Linked DNA regions of Homo sapiens. The protein of the gene in region 4 purifies or fractionates together with the protein of the main gene of each other region. This does not show direct contact. Each region holds a gene or a part of one and is shown on either strand. Other genes may lie near its edges. The genes, in order: DR1, WDR37, SGF29, TADA1, HCCS, USP22 and INSR.

Region 1 (3,500 bases), about 73 Mb from region 4:
GCACAGATCTGTATATTCGCAATTGAAATAGGGAAAGTCTTTATATTCATATAAAGATAATTTATAATACAATAAGTCCTCAATGTTGTTGATAGGTTCTGGGAAACTGCGAGTTTAAGAAAAACAACATATAATGAAATCAATTTTACCATAGGTGAACTGATATAAATAAGAGTTAAGTCCCTATGGCATATATTTCTGGTTACAAAAACACTACCAAATTTCTAATAAAGACCCAAAACACTTCTAAAATTAAACATTGAGATTAATATGAGCTTTATATACATTTAAAAAGGATAAAAACAAGTAAGAATTGGCTGGACATGGTGGCTTACGCCTGTAATCTCAACACTGGGAAGTCGAGGTGGGCAGATGGCTTGACCTCAGGAGTTCGGAACCAGCCTGGGTAATATGGTGAAACCCGTCTCTACAGAAAAATTCAAAAATTAGCCAGAGGTGGTGGCTTGCACCTGTAGTCCCAGCTACTCGGGAGCCTGATGTGGGAGGATCCCTTGAGCCTGGGAGGTCGAGGCTGCAGTGAGCCATGATCACGCTACTGCACTCCAGTCTGGGCAACAGAGCAAAATCCTATCTCAAAAAAAATATATATATTATCCAGCCCCAAATGTTTATGGGGTTGTTATTGATAAACCCTGCATTAAACAATCCCACAGTCGGTGCTGCGGTGAGCCGTGATGGTACCACTGCATTCCAGCCTGGGTGACAGAATGAGACCCTGTCTCAAAAAAAAAAAAAAAAAGTAAAAATTATTTACCCAATATTTGGCGAATCAGTGAGTGACAGCAGTTGTAGTGCTAGTGGGTTAAATCAAGGAATAACTGTTGGGAAGTGAAAATTTTAAGGAGCACCTCCTACCACCATGCAGTTCAAAAACAAAAAATAAGAAATAAAGTGGGCTTGCTGAGTGCTTTCATACTGCATCATTTATTGTGCATTTGTATGATTATTATATACTTTACAAATTTTCGTTTTACAGTAATTTGTATTCATTCGTTTTTCAACCTGCTTATTTCAGTTCAGTGTCTTGGGTAGCTGGAGCCTATCCCAGCAGCTCAGGGAGCAAAGTGGGAGCCAACCCTGGACAGGATGCCTTTTCATCACAGGGCGCACTCACACGGCACACACACGCATACTGGGACCATTTAGCTGTACCAATTCACCTAACGTGCATCTTTGGGAATTGAGAAGAAACCAGAATACCCAGAGAAAACTCATGCAGATATGTGGAGGACATGCAAAATTCACACAGACAGTGGCCCTGGTTGTAAATAATTGTTTTTCATCAATGTTATAATGAAATTACAGGCCGGGTGTGGTGGCTTACGCCTGTAATCCCAGCACTTTGGGAGGCCGAGGCGGGTGGATCACGAGGTCAGGAGATAGAGACCATCCCGGCCAACATAGTGAAACCTCATCTGTGCTAAAATACAAAAAATTAGCCAGGCTTGGTGGTGTGCACCTGTAGTCCCAGCTACTTGGGAGGCTGAGGCAGGGGATTTCTTGAACCCAGAAGGCGGAGGTTGCAGTGAGTTGAGATCGCGACACTGCACTCCAGCCTGACAACAGAGCAAGACTTCGTCTCAAAAAAACAAACAAAAAAAGAAATTACATTAGTTGAGGACCTGCTGTATGTGATATGAACAATGAGGATCAACTCTTTTTGTAATAGTTTTTTTACATATGTTATTTCATTTGTTTATTTCCTCTGTGAGGGTAAGTATTGATAGTCCAGTCATAGACTGGTAACACAGGCACACCATTAAAAATAATAGACATACAGTATGCAGTATTTTGTTTTACTTATGAAACTCCGTATTTTATGTATGATGTATTGAGTATGAAGAATAGTACATACTGTTTCCTTTTAACTTTATGTTTCTTGCCTTTGTATATTTTATATGAATAGCACTTGTCACTAACATAGAAAGCAGTAGAGGTGGAAGAGGGAGACTTGCCAGAATAAGTTTTTAATGTGAATCAGAGATTTTTATTAGGAATTGGGAGTGGAAGGAGAGAGATAGTATTAGAAAGTATGTATGCAGCAAAGGATGGAGAAACTGTCCTTGTTGTTAAGGCATCTAAGGATGCTCCAATTACTGGGGAAAACATACCAGGCTCAAAATGGTCTGATTATGCAAATACCTTCTAATACGTTTGTTTCTTTTGTTGTGCCTATAAAAGATGCCATTAACTTCATATTTATGTCACTAATAAACTTCTAGAATCCATGTAGTAGGGTGTAGTAGTGTGGTTAAGCTATGAAGAACAATGGTATTTATTTCCAAAACACTTATTTGGTATATTACATAGGATAGAGTATGTTTTCTAAGCCAAATAGTGTTAGGTTTTCATGTGCAGTTGCCTTACACATATACTAGTAGCCCTTACAAAATTTCGTCTGTCTTTATTATAAACATGTTGTAAGTGAGGAAACTAAGATTCCAAGAAATTAAGTACTGTTGGCCCTCTGTGTCTGGGGGTTCCACATCTATAGATCGACCAACCATGGACTGATGGATTGAAAACATTTGGGGAAAAAACAAAAAATAACCCAACAATGAAATAGTATAAATTTTAAAAATAATATAACAATATTTATATATCATTTACATTATGTTAGATATTATAATCTAGAGATGATTAGCATCCTTGGATTTTGGATTTTGGTATCCTTGGGGTATCCTGGAACCAATCCCTGGCGGATACCAAGGGATGACTGTAATATAATAACATCTAACAAGTGAAGGATTTGAACCCCAATGTAAGTAATTATGAAAACTATTTTTCTTCCACTAGAACTTTTTTCCCCAAAAATACTCTGGAAATACTGGAACAAATACTAAAATAAATGACCTTTATTTGAAGATCTTTTAAAAAAATTATAAGCCTGCCTGAGGATAGCAAAATTGTGTGCTTTTGCAAGGTAATTGTAGAACTCATTCTAAGGAAGCAGAGGTAATGTCTGTTACTATTTTCAGCTCCCTTTTTCTGTCCACTGTTGTCTAAATGATTCACTCAGTGTTATGCAGAATATGAGAAGTTATTTTATAAAGTTGATTTGTGGTATAGGCTTTACATATGTCTTTTCTTTTGGTCAAAATACTAAAGAAAGCTTATAGAAAAAGTGACCTGGTGTCAGGTTTTAGTTTCATCCTTATCCAAATGTTGCAGAATTTTGGAATCTTTTGGAGTACACTTTCTCTTTAAAACAAGCCCATCACCTTTAGTATAGTGGTGAGTAAAAATAAAATAAAAACAAGGCCAAATTGCGTTTTTCTAAATTGCAAGTTCCCTGTTTTCCATATCCCAGTAACAAACCTACTGTTGTGCAAATAGGAAATAACATCTAGTAGCTACTTTAGCAATGGACGTGGCAAAATAAATAAATTAGTAGCTATGGCTCATTATTTAGGATTTAAATGAGCCATAACTACTATAAATGAAATTGAAGATCATGTTCTTAATTTGAAATTAAGGAT
Region 2 (3,500 bases), on a different chromosome or scaffold from region 4:
AGTGTCTGTGTCCTCATCTCTTCTTACAAGGATGTCAGTCCTATTGGAATAGGATCCACTCTCCTGGTCTCATTTTACCTTAATTATCTCTTTAAAGCCCCTTTCTCCAAACAGCCCCATTCTGAGGTCCTGGGGTGAGGACTTCGACACAGGAATTTGGGTCCACAGTTCTGCCCATAGCAGCCCCTTCCACTGTTCCCTCCGCAGTTTGTTCACACAGCACACACCGGGCATCACATCCTGCCGACAGCCGTCTGGTGATTTTGCATCACACGGAATAAAACCTGGTGTCCTTTCCAGTCTCCCGGGATTACAGGAGCTGTTCCCGACTTTGCCTCCCGTAGCTGTTCCGCACATGGCGGGAATGTTGTTCCTCAGCCCGGGCGAGCCTTACTTAACCTTTCCTTTCCTCACATCCGACTCACGTGCGACCTCATCAGAGAGTCCCTCCTCAGTAATTCTGTGTGAAATAGCGCCCCCATCCAGCTGCCCCTTGTCCTGTTTTATTTTACTTCATAGAAGTTACTACCACCTTACTCTGTGTCTCCATGTTGATTTGTGTTCCCGTGCTGCTCTGCATCCATGTGATATGTGTTCCCGTGCTGCCCTGGGTCCCTGTGACGTGCTTTCCCTTGCTGCTGTGCGTCCCTGTGACGTGCGTTCCCTTGCTGCTGTGCGTCCATGTGACATGTTTCCGTGCTGCCGTGCGTCCCTGTGACGTGTGTTCCCGTGCTGCTGTGCGTCCCTGTGACGTGGGAACCCTTGCTGTTGTGCGTCCCTGTGACGTGTTCTCGTGCGGCTGTGTGTCCATGTGACGTGTTGCCGTGCTGCTGTGCGTCCCTGCGACGTGCGATCCCGTGCCGCTGTGCGTCCCTGTGACGTGCGTTCCCGTGCCGCTGTGCGTCCCTGTGACGTGCGTTCCCGTGCTGCTGTGCGTCCCTGTGACGTGCATTCCCTAGTAATGTATATGTGCTCATGACGTGCCTGTGTTAGGCCATTCTTGCATTGCTATAAAAAATACTTGAGACAGGGTAATTTATAAAGAAAAGAGGTTTAATTGGCTGATTCTGCAGGCTGTACAGGAAGCGTGGCACCAGCATCTGCTTGGCTTCTGGGGAGGCTTCAGGGAGCTTGGAGCTTTCACTCACAGCAGAAGGCGAAGCGGGAGAAGGCGTCATGTGATGGAAACAGGAGTAAGGCGGGGGCGGGGGGTGCCCCACATCCAAGCAGCCAGATCTCTTGAGAGCTCACCCACTATTGTGAGGTCAGCATCAGGCTATGAGGAATCCTCCCCCATGAGCCAGACACCCCCACCAGGCCCGGCCTCCAACACAGGGGATTCCAGTTCAGCATGAGATTTGGGCTGGGACAAATTTCCAAATTATCAGTTCCAGTACTAGTACTTGTGTATATATGACATACCTCTCCATACTAACGGGTGTGTGTGTGTGTGGTCTCTCTCTTTTGCTAGAACAGAAGTTCTCTGAGGGCAGGGGCTTTACCAGGGGTCCTCACTCCAGAGTTCCTACCTGCTAGATTGAGCGTAGTTTTGCATGTGTGCATGTCAGAAGCCGTCTGTCCTCTTCTGCATTGTGTAAGCAGCACCTGGGCTGGGGGTGGGGACTGGCACTCTGTCACCCCCTGATAAATATTTGTTGGATGAATATACAGATTTTCTTACAGAGCTGGCTGTAATGTGTTTGTTTTAGCCTTGGCCTTTGACAGGGGGCTTGATGTTACAAAGGAAAATAGACTCTTATGACTATAGCAATAGAATTCCAAGTATATTTTAAATAGGCTCTTGAGAATGAAAATGCCTTTTTGTAATGTGATAAATTACTGACTTTCATTTGTATTTGGTTAGTTTTATATTGCATTTCTACTAGTAACTGATGAAAGCTTAAATGTTGAAAATCATTTTATTTGCCATTCTGTTGATGCGTGGAAATAAATGGTAGTTCGGTTGACAATGTTGTGGATTCCACTTTTTTTTCTGTACGAGATGGTCGTAGAGTTGATGGGTGTTCACGGGCAGCAGTTATGGGTCAGAGGAGGACATACTCATCACTGTGGCCAGCACCAGGCTCCTAGTGGTGACCATCATGATGGATATGTCCTCAAGAGATTAATGAGAACCATCTATTTTGTAGCTATGTCAGAAGAAACTCAAGATTTCCAGGAAATGTCTTTCTTTTCTGGCCTTCCCTTTGGCAGCAGATATCTGGGGAAGATGAAGTAGAGTGCTCTGACAAGGACGAGCCCGACCTCGATGGGGATGTGTCCAGCGACTGCCCCACCATCCGCGTCCCACTGACATCCCTCAAGAGCCACCAGGGCGTGGTCATCGCCTCCGACTGGCTGGTTGGGGGGAAGCAGGCTGTGACTGCCTCCTGGGACCGGACGGCAAACCTGTACGACGTGGAGACGTCCGAGCTCGTTCACTCTCTGACAGGTGCCTGGGTTCTCTGAGTCCGCCGCCTCCTGGCTGTGCATGTTAGTTTATGTCCATGGGTTATGTCTGACCTTGCCACTTACTTCTTGACCAGAATGAGTCTCTGTGTTCTTGGCTCTTCTGTGGTAATTTTTGGAGATTCTTTCTATTAATAATAGAACTATTGGTAGCTAAATTTATTTTGTCTTCAGGGGTTTTAAATTGTAGCATGTAGTATCTAGATATTGGACATATGGTAGTTGTATTAGTTTTCCATTGCTCTGTAACAAATTTCCACAATCTTAGTGTCTTAAAACGACAGGAATTGACGGCCTCATGGTTTCCCAGGTCAGTAATTCTGGGCCCGTGGTAGCTGCTCTTCTCCCTGGGCCCTCAAAGACCTAAGTGAGGGTGCTGCCTGGTCAGGACCTCCCCAAGGCTGCGGTCCTCTTCCAAGCCTGCTGGTCATTGGAGGAGCTCCTTCTTGCGTCTGGAGTTTGAGGCCCTGTCTTCTTGCCAGCTGCCAGCCGGGGCTCCTCTGGGCGTGCAGAGGCTGTGTCTGGCCCTGGGGCCCCTGCACAGGGCTTGCCTTTCCCACACAGCAGCCGCTTTCCTCTGCAGCTGGAGCTCCCCTGCTGCTCTGAACTCTCCAACTTCTGGGACCCTTTTTAAGGGCTAGGCCAGACCACCCAGGACAATATTCCCTTTGATGAAGTCAAAGTCAACTCATTTAGGGACCTTAATTACATCTGCAAAATCCTTTTTGCCTTATAATGTATCATAATTACCAGAAAGATAATCTCATCCTATTTACAGGCTCTGCCCTAACTGAAGGGAAGGGTGTTAGGCATGTACGGGGTGGGGGTGGCTTGGGGCCATCTTGGGATGCTGCCTGCTGAAGTTGCTTCTGCGAATCTATCTCTAAGTGCATTTCCTGCATGAGCGTTAAAGATTGTATTTGACTGAGGACCCATAGCGTTGTATCATTAGAAGGTATTCTAAGCAAAGAATCAAGATTTAAGTGGTTCTCACATTCAACCTGTTAATTTGCCTGACCTTCTAACTGGTA
Region 3 (3,500 bases), on a different chromosome or scaffold from region 4:
TTTCGCAGCTCACAAAATTGTGCAACCATTAGCACGATCAATTTCAGAACATTTTTAACACCCAACAAAAATGCCCCATATCTTTTCCTTCCACCCTATTAATCCAGGCAAACAAAAACACTCTTTTTTTTTTGGAGACGGAGTCTCACTGTGTCACCTAGGCTGGAGTGCGGTGGCGCGATCTCAGCTCACTGCAACCTCTGCCTCCTGGGTTCAAGCGATTCTTCTGCCTCAGTCTCCCTAGTAGCTGGGATTACAGGCACACACCACCATGTCCGGCTAATTGTTTTTGTATTTTTAGTAGAGACGGGGTTTTGCCATGTTGGCTGTCTCTACTAAAAATACAAAAATTAGCTAGGCTTGGTGGCGGATGCCTATAATCCCAGCTACTGGGGAGGCTGAGGCAGGAGAATCACTTGAACTCGGGAGGCAGAGGTTGCAGTGAGCCGAGATGGCGCCACTGCACTCCAGCCTGGGTGACAAAGCAAGACTCCATCTCAAAAAAAAAAAAAGCCATTTTTCCCCTATTTGATATCTTTTCTTTCACAGATACAAGGGAGATGCGTATTGGTGCCTGTAGCTCACTGCAGGCTATCGGGCATGCTCTGCCACATTTTGCCCACGATACTCAGGGTTTATAGCTACACAAGGATCAGTTTGCTGGCAGTTGTGCACCGCACAGCCAGGAAGGAGTAGATCCCAGAAATTCCTTCCCAAATGGTATTCCTTTTAGACGTAACCTGGAGAGTAAGAGTCAGAAGATGCCGGCACTCATTGCTAAGTGAAAGATGCCAGTCTGAAAGGTTACGTGCTGTGTATTCCAACTGTAAACGAAAAGCAAAACTAGAGAGTGAAAGGATGAGCGGTAGCCAGGGCCTTGGGAGAGATAGGATGAAAGGGATGGATAGGTGGAGCACAGAGGATTTTAGGGGGTGGAACTCTTCTGCAGGGTACCATGATGGGGGGCACGCAACATGATGCGTTGTCCAAACCCATAGAACGGCAGAACACACAGAGTAAACCATCATGGGGATGGATGTAGTTAATTATCTAACAGTATTGGCTCATCAGTTGTTACAAACGCACCACTCTAATGCAAGATGTTAACAATAGGGGAGACTGCGCAGGGCAGAGCAGGTATACATACAGGAACTCTGTGCCATCAGCTCAGCTTTTCTGTAAACCAAAACTGCTCTAAGAAGAGTTTATCAATAAAATACATTGTAAAATAAAGGAAAAAAGGGCTGGGCGTGGTAACTCATGCCTGTAATCCCAGCATGTTGGGAGGCTGAGGCGGGTGGATCACCTGAGGTCAGGAGTTTGAGACCAGTCTGGCCAAATGGCGAAACTCCATCTCTACTAAAAATTAGCCGGGCGTGGTGGTACATGCTTGTAATCCCAGCTACTAGGGAGGCTGAGGCAGGAGAATCGCTTGAACCTGGGAAGTGGAGGTTGCAGTGAGCCAAGATCGCACCACTGCACTCCAGCCTGGGCGACAAGAGCGAAACTCCGTCTCAAAAAAATAAATAAAGGAAAAAAAAGATACAGGCAGATTACGCATTCCATTCAGTCATCCACAGTTAGAACAGTTTATCATCATCCCATACAACCAGGGTGTCCCTCAGACAGCTGCTGCCGAGTTCCCAGACTCCCATCTCACCCGTCAGCTTCCAAAAGCAGGCGTGGTCCTGACAGACACAGGGCTTCGCCCTTTCAGGCACCCAGTGTAACTGACCTAAGAGATGGCATTCTCTCTCTCTCAGCCTCTCTTGAGGTATGAGTACAATATTGGATTTCCCTCATTGCATAACCCATTTAATTTGTTCTGTTAACTCGGCTACTGTTTCTCCTCTCCATTTGTGATTGGTTTTCACCCAAACTTTTCCACCTTTGTAAGGGATGTTAGCTTTGGCCACTGTACCTGGTCCAGATTGCAGCGGCAGCAGTACTAGTCTAGCAAGTATCCCCCCCCAACCCCAATCCATTCCCATTTATATAGGGTGGGGTTACACAGGTATGGACTATTGGCTGTCTTGAGCACTAGGCAGCTAGCTAGCTGTGTTCACTGTTAACCTCATTTTGCAGGTTGAGGTAAAGGCGCAACCCACCCATCAGGCACTTAAAAATTCTCACATAAAGGCTAAAAAGCATAGTCATAATTTCTTTCTTAGGATCTGTCTCAGTTTCCAGCATCTGCAGTTGCAGCTCTGCTCCCAGGATGACTGATATGGGAGGAATTGCACCAGCATTCTTCCCCACCCCTTCTTCTCCACATCAATTGATCATACCTGTATGTGTCTATTTCTGGACTCTGAATTCTGTTCTGTTGATCTATATGCCAGTACCACACCATCGTGATTACCGTAGCTTCGTAATAAATTTTGAAATTGGGAAGTATGAGTTCTCCAACTTTTTTTTTCTTTTTCCAAGATTGGGGATAATCTGGGTCCCGTGAATTTCCATATGAATTTTAGGATGAACTTGTCAATTTCTGCAAAGAAGTCAATTAGAATTTTGATGGGGATTGCGTTGACTGTATAGATTGATTTGTCTCTTTGATAAAGGACTATCATTAAAGATATCACTTATGATTTAACTTTAATGCCTTCTTTTTTTTTTTTTTTTAACAGTCTCACTCTGTCACCCAGGCTGGAGTGCAGTGACATGATCTCAGCTCACTGCAACCTCAGCCTCCCGAGTAGCTAGGACTATACGCACATGCTACAATGCCCGGCTAATTTTTGTATTTTTAGTAGAGGTGGGGTTTCATCATGTTGGCCAGGCTGGTCTTGAACTCCTGATCTCAAGTGATCTGCCCACTTTGGCCTTCCAAAGTGCTGGGATTACAGGCTTAAGCCACTGCACCAGGCCCTTTAAGGCCTTTTATAATGCTTTTGCATTAGTCAAAGGAGAAAATCATCTTGAACTCCTGAATTTGGATTTAGAAAATGAGGGCCATAGCCGGGCGCCCTTGCCTGTAATTCCAGCACTTTGGGAAACCGAGGCAGGTGGATCACGAGGTCAGGAGTTCAAGACCAGCCTGGCCAAGATGGCGAAACCCTGTCTCTACTAAAAATACAAAAAATTAGGCCGGGCGCATTGGCTTACGCCTGTAATCCCAGCACTTTGGGAGGCCGAGGCAGGCGGATCACGAGGTCAGGAGATCGAGACCATCCTGGCTAAGACGGTGAAACTCCGTCTCTTCTAAAACTACAAAAAATTAACCAGGCGTGGTGGCGGGCGCCTGTAGTCCCAGCTACTCGGGAGGCTGAGGCAGGAGAAAGGCGTGAACCCGGGAGGCGGAGCTTGCAGTGAGCCGAGATCGTGCCACTACACTCCAGCCTGGGCGACAGAGTGAGACTCCATCTCAAAAAAAAAAAAAAAAAAAGAAAATGAGGGCCGTATTTTGGGGATGGGGACTCTGGCCTGGCTGGCAGGGTACCACAGCAGCACAAAGGGCCACCGTCATGTCCTGCTGCTCTTTTCCTTACAGGAAGAGC
Region 4 (3,500 bases):
GGTTAGATTTAAAATGCTCTGATTTGTTTGAATATAGTTCAATACTTCTCCTTCTCTTTCAGTTATTTTTAACACAGTGCCATACATTCTGTGATCACCAAGGTATTAATTGAATAGAATAAACTACTACGCAAACTACCATTATTCCCCTTAATCCATGTCTTCATTATTACCTTGTATTGGATGTGAATCTGTGATTATTTGTGCATGAATTAACTCTTTTTTCCCTTAACCCCTGTGGTATAGTTTTGGTGGCATTAATTTGGAGGATCTCAACTTCAGTACAGGAGTTTACTTTGTGTCTTGTTTGCTACTGTAATGAGTAATTTTAAAAAGTTTTTCTTACTCATAGCATAGATTCCAGCCTCAAAATCCTCTCTCAGGAGCCCAGCAATTTGTGGCAAAGGATCCCCAAGATGATGACGACTTGAAACTTTGTTCCCACACAATGATGCTTCCCACTCGAGGCCAGCTTGAAGGGAGAATGATAGTGACTGCTTATGAGCATGGGCTGGACAATGTCACCGAGGAGGCTGTTTCAGCTGTTGTCTATGCTGTGGAGGTTGGTTTGCTGTTGGCAGAAATAATCTTACAGGTTGAATGTGATAGGCTTGTGTGTTGTTTAAAGTCGGTATTGCAAGAAAAGAATCCAAATGTCACTCTGATTTCACAGAATTGTCATTGTTGAAGTTGTTTTCTGTTTTTTTTGAGACAGCATCACTTTGTCTCCCAGGCTGGAGTGCAGTGGCACGATCATGGCTCACTGCAACCTGGAAATCCTGGGCTCAAGCGATCCTCCTGCCTCAGCCTCTCAAGAGCTGGGAGTATAGACGTGCGCCACCATACTCAGCTAATTTAAAAAAAAAAAATTTTTTAGGGATGGGGGTCTCTCTCTCTTGCCTAACTGGTCTCGAATTCATGGGCTCAAGTGATCTTCCCGCCTTGGCCTCCCAAGGTGCTGGGATTTACATGTGTGAGCCATAGCACCTGGCTAAAAGTTGTTTTCTTTTAAGAGGAGAAACTCATTATAATCCAAATAGTTGTCTTCAGTTAATAGACTAAGCTTTTCAGAAAGGTTATTTATGGCATAACTCTTCTGGTTGATCTGATGTTTTGTCAACAGGGGAATGGTTTTTAAGGAAAGAAATGAAATTGAGAATCCTATAGATTAAAGTCACTTGTTTTTGCTGTGATACAGCACTGAAGAGTATTAGTCTTGGCATCTGAACAGCAGAATTCTTGTCTCTGCTCATGATTTCATTTGTCCATTCATTTTATTCATTTAGTTACTTGACAAAACTAATTTGATGGGGTCTATAATGCACGAGTATGGTCAGGTGACATTGGATTTTCAATTCTCTGAGCCCTATTTTCTTCATCTGTACTTCAAAAATAATAACAGTTGTCCCATGAAGTTATAAACATTAAATGAATTCTGCGTGCAAACCAATTTAAATAGTACAATAATGTCTTGATATAAGTGGATTTTCCTTGGTATAATTGAAACACCCTGCCTGATGCTGGCTCCCCTATTAATAATGGTAGCCTGGGACGAGTTCTGTCACTCTATTTTCACAGGCTTCCTCAACCTTTTCTTATATACTTGGCTCTCATGAAAGTGAAGAGAAATCAAGTACCTAATTTATTTTGTGCTTATTTCCTATATATCTGTTGTTTATGTGGCTTTTGAGAGAGCCAAGGTTCTTTTCACGCAAGGATTTTGGTTCCAATAATATCAGATCTTAAAACTTTTTGTCCTATTTTAAACAAAGTTTCAGCATAGTTTGTCTCTTTTTAAAAAGTCATTTTTGCTCATGCCTGTAATCCCAGCACTTTGGGAGGCTGAGATGGGCGGGTCACCTGAGGTCAGAAGTTCGAGACCAGCCTGGCCAACATGGTGAAACCTTGCCTCTACTAAAAATAAAAAATTAGCCAGGCTTGGTGGTGGGCACCTGTAATCCCAACTACTTGGGAGGCTGAGGCAGGAGAATTGCTTGAACCTTGGAGACAGAGGTTGCAGTGAGCTGAGATCGTGCTATTGCACTCCAGCCTGGGCAATAGAGCAAGAATCCATCTAAAAAAAAAAGTCATTTTTGTGTACTTCTTTTAAAGCCATCTAAAACTCATTTTTGAGAGAGAGGAGCCAATTTAGAGATGTAAAGACTTTTCAAATTTCATGTATAGCAAGCCCCTCTTAAAGAGAACTATTAATACATGAAAATAAGCATGTCCCCCTCTTTCCCATACCCTCCTACTCCTTTGGTGTGGCTCCGTGGCTCTTCATGTGAACATTCATTTGGTTCTAGCATATACTAACCTATTCTGCATCTCCATCTAAATGCCAATAAATGTTTTTTGGTCAGTGGAAGTTTTATGATTTGCTTTTAAAGAGGATATCATGCTATTTTTCTTTTTGTATGTTTACAGAATCACCTTAAAGATATACTGACGTCAGTTGTGTCAAGAAGGAAAGCTTATCGGTTACGAGATGGTCATTTTAAATATGCCTTTGGCAGTAACGTGACCCCGCAGCCATACCTGAAGAATAGTGTAGTAGCTTACAACAACTTAATAGAAAGGTAAATGAAGTTTCTTGTGATTTTCTTTCCATCTTTTGCTAGTTGTTTATACTCCTCTTATAGACCATTGTTAAATAATTGATTGTGTTTTCATAGGTTTAAGTACCTTTAATAGGAGTACAATTTTATTTTTTAAAGTCCTATACTTGCCTGAGATCTAGTGAATTATTTTGGTACTCCTTTTATGAGAAGTGAAGTTGCAGAGTTTGGCTTCTGCATGCGGGTTTAATGTGCTTGTCCCCCCGCCCCGACTTTCTTAGGTGCAGTGGAGTAGTGCATAGGTGGTGCATCCTGAGGGCTCCCGAGGGGCATCACCTGCCCAGTGGGGAAGTGAGCCTGCTTTCAGTTAGAGGCAGGGCCTGTGATTGTTGGGTCACAGCTGGGTGTCTTGGTGGTGGGAGGAGGAGGAGGAGTGGTAGATGTTTCTCCAGGCCCTCATCTGGCTCTTGTAGGCATAGCTCAAGATAGTGGTCTGTGCCTGGTGTCATCACTTGCTTTTGGCCTCCTGCTGTGCAGACATGGTCTCTCAGCTCACCTCTGGGATTCCTGTGTCGTCTTCCCATTGAGGGCTTCAGGATGTCTCTATGTCCTGAGTCACCCCTTTATGAAACAACCTAGATTACTTTCATCCCTGTGTTGTCTTTCTTATCCTTCCATCTCCTTTTGTCCTCCACTTCCCCCAAAGGGAATTTAGTCTGAATTTTAAGCCTTTGGGAAAGGAAAAAAAAAGTAGTAATGTAATTTTCTTTATGGTTACTGAAGTGACTTGAATTTCTTGTGATTTGCTGGACTTTGCGTATCTGGTTAGTTTGGGAGAAGAGAGGTAAAGAGATAACTGGGACTTGCAAGTTCAGAGAAAAAAGTATGTATGACTGGGAAGGGTGGCAGGGTGATTGGTGAAGTAACAGGAAGGGAAGGCAG
Region 5 (4,262 bases), on a different chromosome or scaffold from region 4:
ATGAATAATTTTGAGGAATTGTGACAGACAGAGTCATAGGGAATGATGGAAAAGACAGAGAACTGTGGGAGGAATGGAACTGTGGGAAACAGAATTTTGAGAGATACAAGAATTTGTAGGAAAGAATAAAGGCTTGCTGGGAAACCCAGCAAATTTTGGGAAAAACAACAGAATTACGGGCAAGACAGGGAATTGTGGGACAGAAAAGTGAATTGTGGGAGACACAAGGAATCATGGGAGAAACAAGAGAATTGTGAGCAAGACAAGGAATTGTGGGACAGAAAAATGAATTGTGGGAAGGAATAGAATTTTGGGAGTGACATGGGATTGTGGGAGAAATAAGGAATTGTGGGAGAGACAGAAGATTGTGGAAAGAACTGAGAATTGTGGGAGACAGAACTGTGGGTAACAAAACAGAATTGCGGGAGTGAAAAGGAATTGTGGGAGGGACAAAAGAATTGTGGGTAAAGAGAGAAGTTGAGCTGTGATAGTTGAAATGGAATCCTTGGGCTATCCTGTAGGCAGTTCTGATGCTGGGATGGCCCTTCTGAGTTGTCCCCTTTGGGGCTAGGGGCCTGGACTTATGTGCCCTTGCAGAGACCCTCATAGGATGCAGATCGTCCCCAAGGAGGGGAAGTGATTTTGTGTGAGGCAATTCTCTTAGGCAGAGGACAATTCCTGGAGACTCAGCTGAAAGCTGTGAGCCCCCAACACTTTCTGCACCAGGGGACATCTGGACGTATTTCACAGAGCCACTATAGTTATATAGAAAGATATATGTTTCTTTATTAACACTTTAAGTAACAAGATCAAATTACCTTAATTTCAAAGTAGTGGATGGATGATATTTTGAGACAGGCACAACAACCATATGTGACATAATTTATCTGTAATGTGTATTAGTGCCACATACAGCTAATAGTACTAGGATTTATTGCCTACATCCCTGATGGAAGAAAATGCTAAATTTCTGTTGGAGGTAAATGAAAATACAGACATTCAAAATCACATACCCAGTTAAGAAGAATTTAGCAGCCAGAACACTGTCTTGTTCACTTTTGGATCTCCACCACCGAAGTTATGGGCACCTACTAACGTTTCTTGAATCATTGCTACAATTAAAACCGATAAGATTTAAAAAAAAAACAAATTTAAAAACTCCTCCAAAGCACTCCTTCTGCCGCATAAAGCATACATAGTAGAGCTCTTCACTCTAGGGAAGCCTCTGGAGCAGACAACCTTCCCTGCCACCGCCACATTTTGAAAAAGGCTCCTGGCCTGGAGGGGCGGGCCCAGAAAGCGGCCCCCGCAGCAGTTACAGGCCGGGGCGAGGAGGGGACGGAACCCGCTCTCCGTGATTGACGGAAAATATTACTCTTCAGCCCGCCTCCCGCGTGCCCGGAAGTCCCGCCTTCTAAAAAGGAAGTAGGGGTGCGTGAGAACGCCGGCGGTGACCGCAGCCACAGCGGTGACCGAGTGAGAGGAAGGCGGCGGCGGCGGCGGCGGCGGCGTGAAGTCACTGCTGCTCTGGGTTCGGGTTGGCGACTGAAGGCGGTACCGGCCTCCCGGAACAGCCCGGGGGAGGGCTTAGGTGCAGAAGGGCAGGCTGGCCGCGGCCGGTTTGGTCTGGGGACCACGGGCTGGAGCAGGTGGGCAAGCGCCGGGACGGTGTGGGGAAGACACTTGGCAGCTTCTCGACCTCTGGTGTCCCTTCGTTTCTTCGAATTCCTATTCATGCGCCGCACCCTTCTCGGACCCCCAGCCCCTCGCTAAGGCTCTGGGGATGGGGGTCAAGTCTAGGCTCAATGGACCTCCCCTCCTCCACCCGGGTCACCACTCCTCGGAAATCCTCGCCCCACTCCCGCCTCAGGCCTGTACCTCCTGGCTGTGACGTGGTTTCTCAGCGACTGCCTCACCTCAGTCCCAAAATCCTCACTGCCTTAGATACATACGTGCCCCCAGAGGTTGGCCTGGGTTTCACAGTATTTCCCTAAGGGGGCAATATATTAAAGCTGTCCTTCGAAGTTAGTACCCTGCCTGGTAGATGCCCATGGGATGACAAAGAGGAGGAACAAGGGTTGACCAGATTAGGACTAACGAGAGAATAGTCTGAGTCCAGAGACATTAATCTGTCTCTTTGTTTTGGCAGGTGGAAATTTAAAATTGTTTACAGTCAACACTGTTTCCAGCCATGGGTTTGTCTCCATCTGCTCCTGCTGTTGCAGTTCAGGCCTCAAATGCTTCAGCGTCCCCACCTTCAGGATGCCCGATGCATGAAGGGAAAATGAAAGGTAATCGGCCCTTTGCCTAGAAAATAAAAACAAAAGATAATTCACGGCTGGGTGCGGTGGTTCACGCCTGTGACAGCACTTTGGGAGGCCGAGGTGGGTGGATTGCTTGAGCTCAGGACTTCGAGACCAGCCTGGGCAACATGGCAAAAACCTCCCTCTACAAAAAAATACAAACATTAGCCAGACGTGCTGGTGGGTGCCCGTAGTACCAGCGACTTTGGAGGTTGAGGTGGGTAGGATCGCCTGGGAGGCCAAGGTTGCAGTGAGCCAAGATTGTGCCACTGCACTCCAGCCTGGGTGACAGAGTGAGACTGTGTCTTAAAAAAAGTCTGGAAAGCCTCTAAAGGAAGAGGCAGTGTAGTATGCTGCTGAGGCTGGTAGGCATGGGAGTCAGGCACCCTGGGTCTGGTCGTTATTTTGCGTCTTATTGAGGTTTGTGACTCTAAACAAGTTAACTCTGTTAGCCTCAGTCTGTCATCTGTAAGATGAAGATATAATAATGTTTCACAGGCCTGTCATGATGATTGAGGTAGTACATGAGAACGTAGTGAGTACTCTAAACCAGCCCCAACTTCCCAAAGTTTACTTGTGCCTACATCAGTGGTTCTTAACTGGAGGGGGGCAATCCCCCCTTCCCACAGGGGACATTTGCCAATATCTGGAGGCATTTTTGGTTGTCACAACTGAGAGGAAAGTGAATAGAGGGCAGGAGTGCTCCTAAACATCCTACAATGTACAGAACAGCCCCCCAACAAAGAATCAGCTGGCCCCAAATATCAAGAGGGCCAAGGTTGAGAAACCTTAGTCTAGATCTAGCTGTCTTAATAAATAACTTTTGCTCGTATAGCCATTTCAGTATTTTCGTATATAAAAGTAAGCCATCACTTAACGGGCTTGCTGTCCATTCTTTAGATAAGAAAATGAAAATGGAAAAGCTGTCTTTCATTTTTAATTCATTCATGTCTACTTTAGATTTTTTATATTAAAGTGTGGCTTGAATCAGTAAGTCGTGAAGGGCAGAAGCAACATGGTGTGCTTACTGAGTACTAATGTTTGCGCTGTTATTCATTTCTTCAGTCAGCCAGCCTATTCTGAGAGGTCACTGCCCATTCTGTACCAAGCATTGCTGGATTTTGTTTGTTTCTGCACGAGAGAATAACATCATACAAAATGGAGCTTTGCCTGATAGAGCTTACATTCTCATCTTCATAAGCTATGTGGTCTTACGACTTCATAAGCTAAGTTTTCTCCCTATTTTATAGTCAAGGAAACTAAGACTTGGAGTAACTGATGCTCCAAGTCACATAGTAAGTGGCAAAGCCAGCAAAAGTTCTGTGACCTTGGACAAGGACAGGCAGTGTTCTTCTGGGGTTTCTTTGTACAGGAAGAATTGAGACAGATCAGCCAAAGCAGGTGTGCTCCTGTTCTGAGTGTCCTCAGGGAGATTCTAGAACCCTTACTTTGGTTTTATTTCATTTGCTGTATATCTTGGAGAGCTGCCAGACTTACTACATTAATAAAGAATGTGGGTGTCTATAGGAGATCGAAGGGGCTACTGGTTATATGACGTGAAAAGTTGAAATGTTATTTTCTTTGTAACACCCAGCTGGGATCTATGACTTGGAAAGGATTGGTGCTTTCAGTGGTAGAGAGGAAAGGCATAGCAAGTCTTCCTTCACCCCTAAAGTGGGCAGTGGCACAGGGCACCAGGAAATGAGGGCTTGGGAGGAGAAGTGCAGGGAAGGAAGTGAAAGCAAACTCAGCTTTTTCATGTGTATTGCTGTAGTTGCTGCTGCTGCTGCCTGAGGCCAAGATTCCATTACATGAGCAGCTGTCTTCTGTGTCTCAGCTCTCCAAGTGCCTGCTCATTCTCTGAACCAGTTTCCCAGTCCCTCACTAATTGGGATCAGCATCCTGGGTCTTTGGGCATAGCCCTTGCTATTGCTCATCTCATTAGGCTCAGACCTTCCC
Region 6 (3,500 bases), on a different chromosome or scaffold from region 4:
TGTGTCACGGGGGCCATTTTCTATAAGGAGCATAGACCGTTTGGGGCCTTGTCTCTGAGTATTAGAAACCGAGTTTGCTCTGAGCAATTTGGACCTCCTCGCTGTCCCTTAACTACTGAATTCCATTAGTAGGAGATTGTCTCAAGATTTAAATCCTGTATAAATATCGAGAGTAAATTTCCCAGTCTGCAAGTTTTCATTTTTTATATTGTTAAATAAATTTCTAGCAAGGAACTGGCCTTGTGAAATGCAGCATTGACTGTCCAGTGCAGGCCACCGGGCCTGGCCTGGGCACGCTCTGTGAAATGTGCAGGGGTCTCCAGTGTTGCCTAGGGTCACAGGCCCCAAGTTCTAGATGCAGCTGAGATAGACCTGTGGATTCAGAGCCTCTGACAGGGCCCATGAGTTTATCCTCCTCCCAAGTCCCTCAGTGACTGTGATGGTCTCCAGACTGGGAAGTCCTTGCTTGAGGAGCGCCCCTCGCCTTCCGAGTTCACACACACCCCTCCCCAGGGCCACCTTGGGAGCCAGGACACGTTGGGTGTGAGCACTGCTGCTCTTGCTCCTGCCCCATCCCACCTGAGTGTCACTGTGACAAAGGGCACAGCGGGGAAGGGATGTGGGAACGGCTTCCACCCCGGGTTGCCTCTGGAGCTGGGTGGGTGTCAGTCCTCACAGCCATTGTTTTCCCTCTGCTTCCAGTGGAGTCTCCACCACCATCGACCCCTTCTGGGACATCAGCTTGGATCTCCCCGGCTCTTCCACCCCATTCTGGCCCCTGAGCCCAGGGAGCGAGGGCAACGTGGTAAACGGGGAAAGCCACGTGTCGGGAACCACCACGCTCACGGACTGCCTGCGACGGTGAGAGGCCTGCACCCACACGGCGGGGGCGTGTCTCCTGGCCAGAAGGCTGTGCTCCATCAGGACCAAAGCAGGGCTCTTTCACATGCCCAGGACAGAGCCTGGGCAAAGGTGCAGCATGAGCCTGGATTGGCTGCAGTCTCTTGTGCTAGTTTGTCCTTTGTTTTGGCCAGATGACTCAATATTTCTGTCCCCCAGCTTCGCACAGCACCAGGTGTCAGTGTCAGCAGCTGCTACTCCAACCTCCGCATGTAAATGAACCCAGAGCCAAACTGGCTGCTCCCTTAGCCCTTGCACTAATCACCTACCCCGGAGTGTGAGCTGAGATGCGCCCGGGCCTCTCCCCATGGTCCACGGCCTTCTCTGCACATGATTAAAACTTAGTTGTGATGTTCTGTACTCTTAGGGCTGTTTTTGAAATTGTGCATGTACTGCTTCATTTGGGATAAGTAATAATATTTACAAAGTGATTTTTTTTTTTTTTTTTGAGACAGAGTTGTGCTCTGTCGACCAGGCTGGAATGCAGTGGTGCGATTTCTGCTCACTGCAGCCTCTGCCTTTCAGGTTCAAGTGATTCTCCTGAGTAGCTGGGACTACAGGTGTGCACCACCACGCCTGGCTAATTTTTGTATTTTTAGTAGAGCGGGGGTTTTACCATGTTGGCCAGGCTAGTCTCGAACTCGTGATATCAGGTGATTCACCCACCTCGGCCTCCCAAAGTGCTCACAGGCATGAGCCACCACACCTGTGAGTGATTTTTAAAAAAAAATGTATTTAAGTAGCTGTAGCATACAATTGTAAAGACAGCAGAAAACCTTCCTAAAATTTGTCTATTATTTTATAGCCTTTGTTTTATTTGCATCAATTAAAGGTAATGCAGAAGAGTCCTTGTTGAGTGGAAGTATCCCTTAGAAGAGGTACGAGCCTTTGGTTTCTGTCTGGCTGCATAGTCAGCACGACCAAAGTTGCATGTTTATTTTGTTTTTTGAGATAGGGTCTTGCTCTTTCATGCAGGCTGGAGTGCAGTGGTGCCATCATAGCTCACTGCAACCTCGATCTCCTGGGCTCAGCCTCAGTGTCCAGGGCTCAGCCTTGGTCTCCTGTCTCGGCCTCCTGAGTAGTTGGGACTATAGGTGTGTGCCACCATGCCCAGCTGATTTTGTGATTTTTTTTTTTTTAATTTTTTTTTTTTGAGACGGAGTCTCGCTCTTTCTAGAGTGCAGGCTGGAGTGCAGTGGCGCGATCTTGGCTCACTGCAACCTCCACCTCCCAGGTTCACGTGATTCTCCGGCCTCAACCTCCCGAGTGGCTGGGATTACAGGTGCTTGCTACCATATCCGGCTAACTTTTGTATTTTTAGTAGAGACTAGGTTTCGCCACATTGGCCAGGGTAGTCCCAAACTCCTGACCTTAGGTGATCCGCCTGCCTTGGCCTCCCAAAGTGCTGGGATTACAGGTGTGAGCCAGCATGCCCGGCCAACCAAAACCTTTTTAAAGAAAGTCTTTGCAGCTAAATTAAATTTAATCATAAATTCCAATAAAATGAAAGCTTTGCCAAAACAGCAGGCCATGAGGTAGAAACCACACTTCACAAACTACAATGTGTGGGAAGCCTGTGTTGTTAGGAGAGACATGATGTGGTGCTGACTCCCGGGAAGGTGGAGGAGAGGTAGAGTGCACCCGGGTCCCCACTTTGTATTGCAAGCAAAGGCTCCTTTTCGAGTCCTTTGGAGAGCAGATCACAAAGCTAGCAACGAAACAGGTGCAGCTTTGCCCAGAGGCCCCCTCGTCTTGCCCTAGTTAAGATGGCAGAATTTCCAGAGCATAAATAAGGGCTTTCCATACCTGCTTGTGAAAAGAGTGAATTTTTTGCTGGTGTTTCAGCTTCAAAATTTGGCGTGTGCTTTGTTGAATCATCTGTTCTGCAGGTTTTGTCAGTGGCAGCTGACACCTGTGCCAGACACGCTTCTGATGCAGCCCTCCTACCTCCTGCCTCTGCACGGTCAGGAAATTACCTTTCCCAGTCCTCTTGCCTTTTTTTTTTTTTTTTTTTTTTTTTGAAATGGAGTCTTGCTCTTGTTGCCCAGGCTGGAGTGCAGTGGCACAATCTCGGCTCACTGCAACCTCCATCTCCCAGGTTCAAGCGGTTCTCCTGCCTCAGCCTCCTGAGTAGCTGGGATTATAGGCATGCACCACCTCGCCCGGCTAATTTTGTATTTTTAGTACAGACGGAATTTCTCTTATGTTGGTCAGGTTGGTCTTGAACTTCCAACCTCAGGTGATCCACCTGCCTCAGCCTCCCAAAGTGGTGGGATTACAGGTGTGAGCTGCCGCACCTGGCCGACCTCTCACCTCTCTACATTAAACTGCTTATGTTGAGATCATTGTAGATTCACATGCAGTTGTAAGAAGCCTTTAGGTACCCTTTACCCCGGTCCCCCGATGGTGACCTCCTCAGCACTGTGGTGCGACGCCCTGGCCAGGATTCAGACATTCATGCGGAAAGTACCCAGCATCTCCAGTGCCTCCTCCCTCACCACCCACTCTGTAACCGCAGTCACCCTGGACTCCTGCATTTCCATACGCCTGACAATTCCAGAATGTCATGTCAACTGAATGATATAACGGAACCCTTTGAG
Region 7 (2,325 bases), on a different chromosome or scaffold from region 4:
TGTGTGTCCATTAGACACGGCTGATGTGTGTGCAAAGTATCCATGCGGAGTTGATGCTTTGGGAATTGGCTCATGAAGGTTCTTCTCAAGGGTGCGAGCTCATCCCCCTCTCTCCTTCCTTCTTATTGACTGGGAGACTGTGCTCTCGACAGATTCTTCTTGTGTCAGAAGTCTAGCCTCAGGTTTCTACCCTCCCTTCACATTGGTGGCCAAGGGAGGAGCATTTCATTTGGAGTGATTATGAATCTTTTCAAGACCAAACCAAGCTAGGACATTAAAAAAAAAAAAAGAAAAAGAAAGAAAAAACAAAATGGAAAAAGGAAAAAAAAAAAGAACTGAGATGACAGAGTTTTGAGAATATATTTGTACCATATTTAATTTTTAAAGTCTCTGGTATTAGCCTCATAAGTTATTGACTATTCCCCGGGGTTGGCGGGGAGTGGGGACATGAGTTGGTCTGCCTGTTGTGGGGCCGGGAAGGGGAGGGAGTCAGGCACAAGTGGCCTCTTTGTTTGGTCTTAAAGGCATCCATTTCTGGGAATGAAGCCATGTTCGCTGCTAACACTTTTGGATGTTGTGAGGCCACGTGGAGTGTGTGAGAGACTAGGTTTTATGGATGGTCTGGTTCAGGTACCAGGTCTGCTGGAAGGTTCCTGTTCGGATAAGCTGGTAGCTACCTAGCTCTGAGCCTGCCTTCAAGAACACCTGTGTTCATCCTCTGATTCTCTGTGTGTACCTCTTGTGGCGTTTCCTCTCCCGGGTGTGAACATCCTAACCGTTATTGTGCAAACCCAAGAACGTCAGATCCCAAAGCACAACAACCTGGATGGACTTTGGGAACATCTAAGCAATGTAAGAGAGAGGTGCACTGAGAGTACGTCTTGGTCCCCTCCACCCTGAGAGCATCTGACGGTCCTCAGTACTGAACTCCCGGAAGCTGCTCTGAGCCCGGTGACCTCATCTGGGCCAGGTGTGGTGCCTGAGCTGAATGCTCAGGTGCTTACAGTGTTGCAATCCCTAAGAGAGTAGAGTCTGGAGGAGAAACCGTGAAAAAGACCTTACACACCACCAAGAACTTCCGAATGGGCGTGAATCCACCGTTTCTTCTCTTTGCAAAAAGAACCACCACAGCTGCTCAAAGAACACAGTGAACTCATCACTTTGGTTCATCAAAAAATCATCGCCCATGCGTTATTCCTGAGTGCATTTTCTTACAACTTTTTGACTGCTTCCTTTTCTTCTTCTCTTAAGAGTTGTGGGCTTAAGAATGGGATAGAGTCATAATGGCAACCTCCAAGCCCTCTCAATTCTTGATTAAGAACACAGGTAGACATGAATCCCAATTGTCTATTGCTATCTTATTTATATGATTCGGGAAAATACAGCATGTAAAAATATTGCTGAGGAGCCTCAGTGATTGGGTACAAGAAGCAAGAGTACAGAAATTATTTTTGCCAAATTTATTTTGTAAATATGAGGGTCTGTACCTAAATTTAAAAAAAAAACACGTAGAACTAGGTATTTTGTTCTCTTCTTAGTAAATTTGTAGTGGTTGTATACTACACTAGCTGCAATTTTCACATTTTTCTAATTCAGAAAGGTTTTTCTTATATTAGGGGAAAAAGTATTTATTTTAATATATAAAATCACTCTGAAAATCACTCTCATAAAAAATGGAGCGCATGTAAATTTTTATCAAAGAAAAATAAACAGGTGAATGGGGGATAGTGATTTTCTTTTTTCAGCACAGTCTACCTCAGTGTATTGTTAAGATGTGATTCAATCATGGACATCTTTGAGATTTCAGAATTCTACCTGGAACCGGTCTGAATCAGGGAACGTGTGTATCAGCTGATTCGAATGCCAGGGACCAGTAAGAATTTTGAGGGAGGGAGTTGGGATGGAGAAGGTATGGCCTTTATGCGAGCATAGATCCTTTTCTTCCTGGCTGGTAATATTCTTCTCTGAATTTAATCTTCCTTTAAAAAAAAATCCTCCATCTATTGTCACTATGTTCCCCAAACATAAACTAAGTTCCAGGCTGTCATGATGTATCTGATATATGGGGTAACCCAGCAAGGTGTACCTTCCTTTGGTGAGAGATGGCTGCCGGGGCAAAGACGGGCTTTGATTCAGAGCAAGCATTCCCACCTGTTCCATGGAATCCCCCTGAAGTGAGCACAAAGGTGCCCTGGGCTCCCTGATGGTTTATGCCCACTCCTTTCAGGCTGGTGATGCACCTTACACACAAACACCTAATGCAATGTCTTTTTAAATTCTCCAAGTGGGATGGGAGCATGTGAGGGAAATTCCAATCCAAAACCC

What was found.
Region 1: the proteins of TADA1 (region 4) and DR1 purify together in Homo sapiens (affinity purification with mass spectrometry, with the first as the bait; one large-scale study listed by BioGRID). This does not show direct contact.
Region 2: the proteins of TADA1 (region 4) and WDR37 purify together in Homo sapiens (affinity purification with mass spectrometry, with the first as the bait; one large-scale study listed by BioGRID). This does not show direct contact.
Region 3: the proteins of TADA1 (region 4) and SGF29 purify together in Homo sapiens (affinity purification with mass spectrometry; 6 studies listed by BioGRID and IntAct, with this or other methods). This does not show direct contact.
Region 5: the proteins of TADA1 (region 4) and HCCS purify together in Homo sapiens (affinity purification with mass spectrometry; 3 studies listed by BioGRID and IntAct, with this or other methods). This does not show direct contact.
Region 6: the proteins of TADA1 (region 4) and USP22 purify together in Homo sapiens (affinity purification with mass spectrometry; 4 studies listed by BioGRID and IntAct, with this or other methods). This does not show direct contact.
Region 7: the proteins of TADA1 (region 4) and INSR purify together in Homo sapiens (co-immunoprecipitation; one large-scale study listed by IntAct). This does not show direct contact.

What each region holds. Positions count from the first base shown.
Region 1 is NC_000001.11:93,366,407-93,369,906, forward strand, and holds the end of DR1 (protein Dr1), read left to right. Parts: 3' UTR 1-3,087; downstream 3,088-3,500. UniProt on the Homo sapiens protein: The association of the DR1/DRAP1 heterodimer with TBP results in a functional repression of both activated and basal transcription of class II genes.
Region 2 is NC_000010.11:1,101,385-1,104,884, forward strand, and holds part of WDR37 (WD repeat-containing protein 37), read left to right. Parts: intron 1-2,217; coding exon 2,218-2,452; intron 2,453-3,500. UniProt on the Homo sapiens protein: Required for normal ER Ca2+ handling in lymphocytes. Together with PACS1, it plays an essential role in stabilizing peripheral lymphocyte populations.
Region 3 is NC_000016.10:28,581,420-28,584,919, forward strand, and holds part of SGF29 (SAGA-associated factor 29), read left to right. Parts: intron 1-3,493; coding exon 3,494-3,500. UniProt on the Homo sapiens protein: Chromatin reader component of some histone acetyltransferase (HAT) SAGA-type complexes like the TFTC-HAT, ATAC or STAGA complexes.
Region 4 is NC_000001.11:166,859,265-166,862,764, reverse strand, and holds part of TADA1 (transcriptional adapter 1), read left to right. Parts: intron 1-352; coding exon 353-562; intron 563-2,427; coding exon 2,428-2,579; intron 2,580-3,500. UniProt on the Homo sapiens protein: Probably involved in transcriptional regulation.
Region 5 is NC_000023.11:11,109,870-11,114,131, forward strand, and holds the start of HCCS (holocytochrome c-type synthase), read left to right. Parts: upstream 1-1,462; 5' UTR 1,463-1,649; intron 1,650-2,149; 5' UTR 2,150-2,191; coding exon 2,192-2,291; intron 2,292-4,262. UniProt on the Homo sapiens protein: Lyase that catalyzes the covalent linking of the heme group to the cytochrome C apoprotein to produce the mature functional cytochrome.
Region 6 is NC_000017.11:21,008,512-21,012,011, reverse strand, and holds part of USP22 (ubiquitin carboxyl-terminal hydrolase 22), read left to right. Parts: intron 1-702; coding exon 703-861; intron 862-3,500. UniProt on the Homo sapiens protein: Deubiquitinase that plays a role in several cellular processes including transcriptional regulation, cell cycle progression or innate immunity.
Region 7 is NC_000019.10:7,114,090-7,116,414, reverse strand, and holds part of INSR (insulin receptor isoform Long preproprotein), read left to right. Parts: 3' UTR 1-2,325. UniProt on the Homo sapiens protein: Receptor tyrosine kinase which mediates the pleiotropic actions of insulin.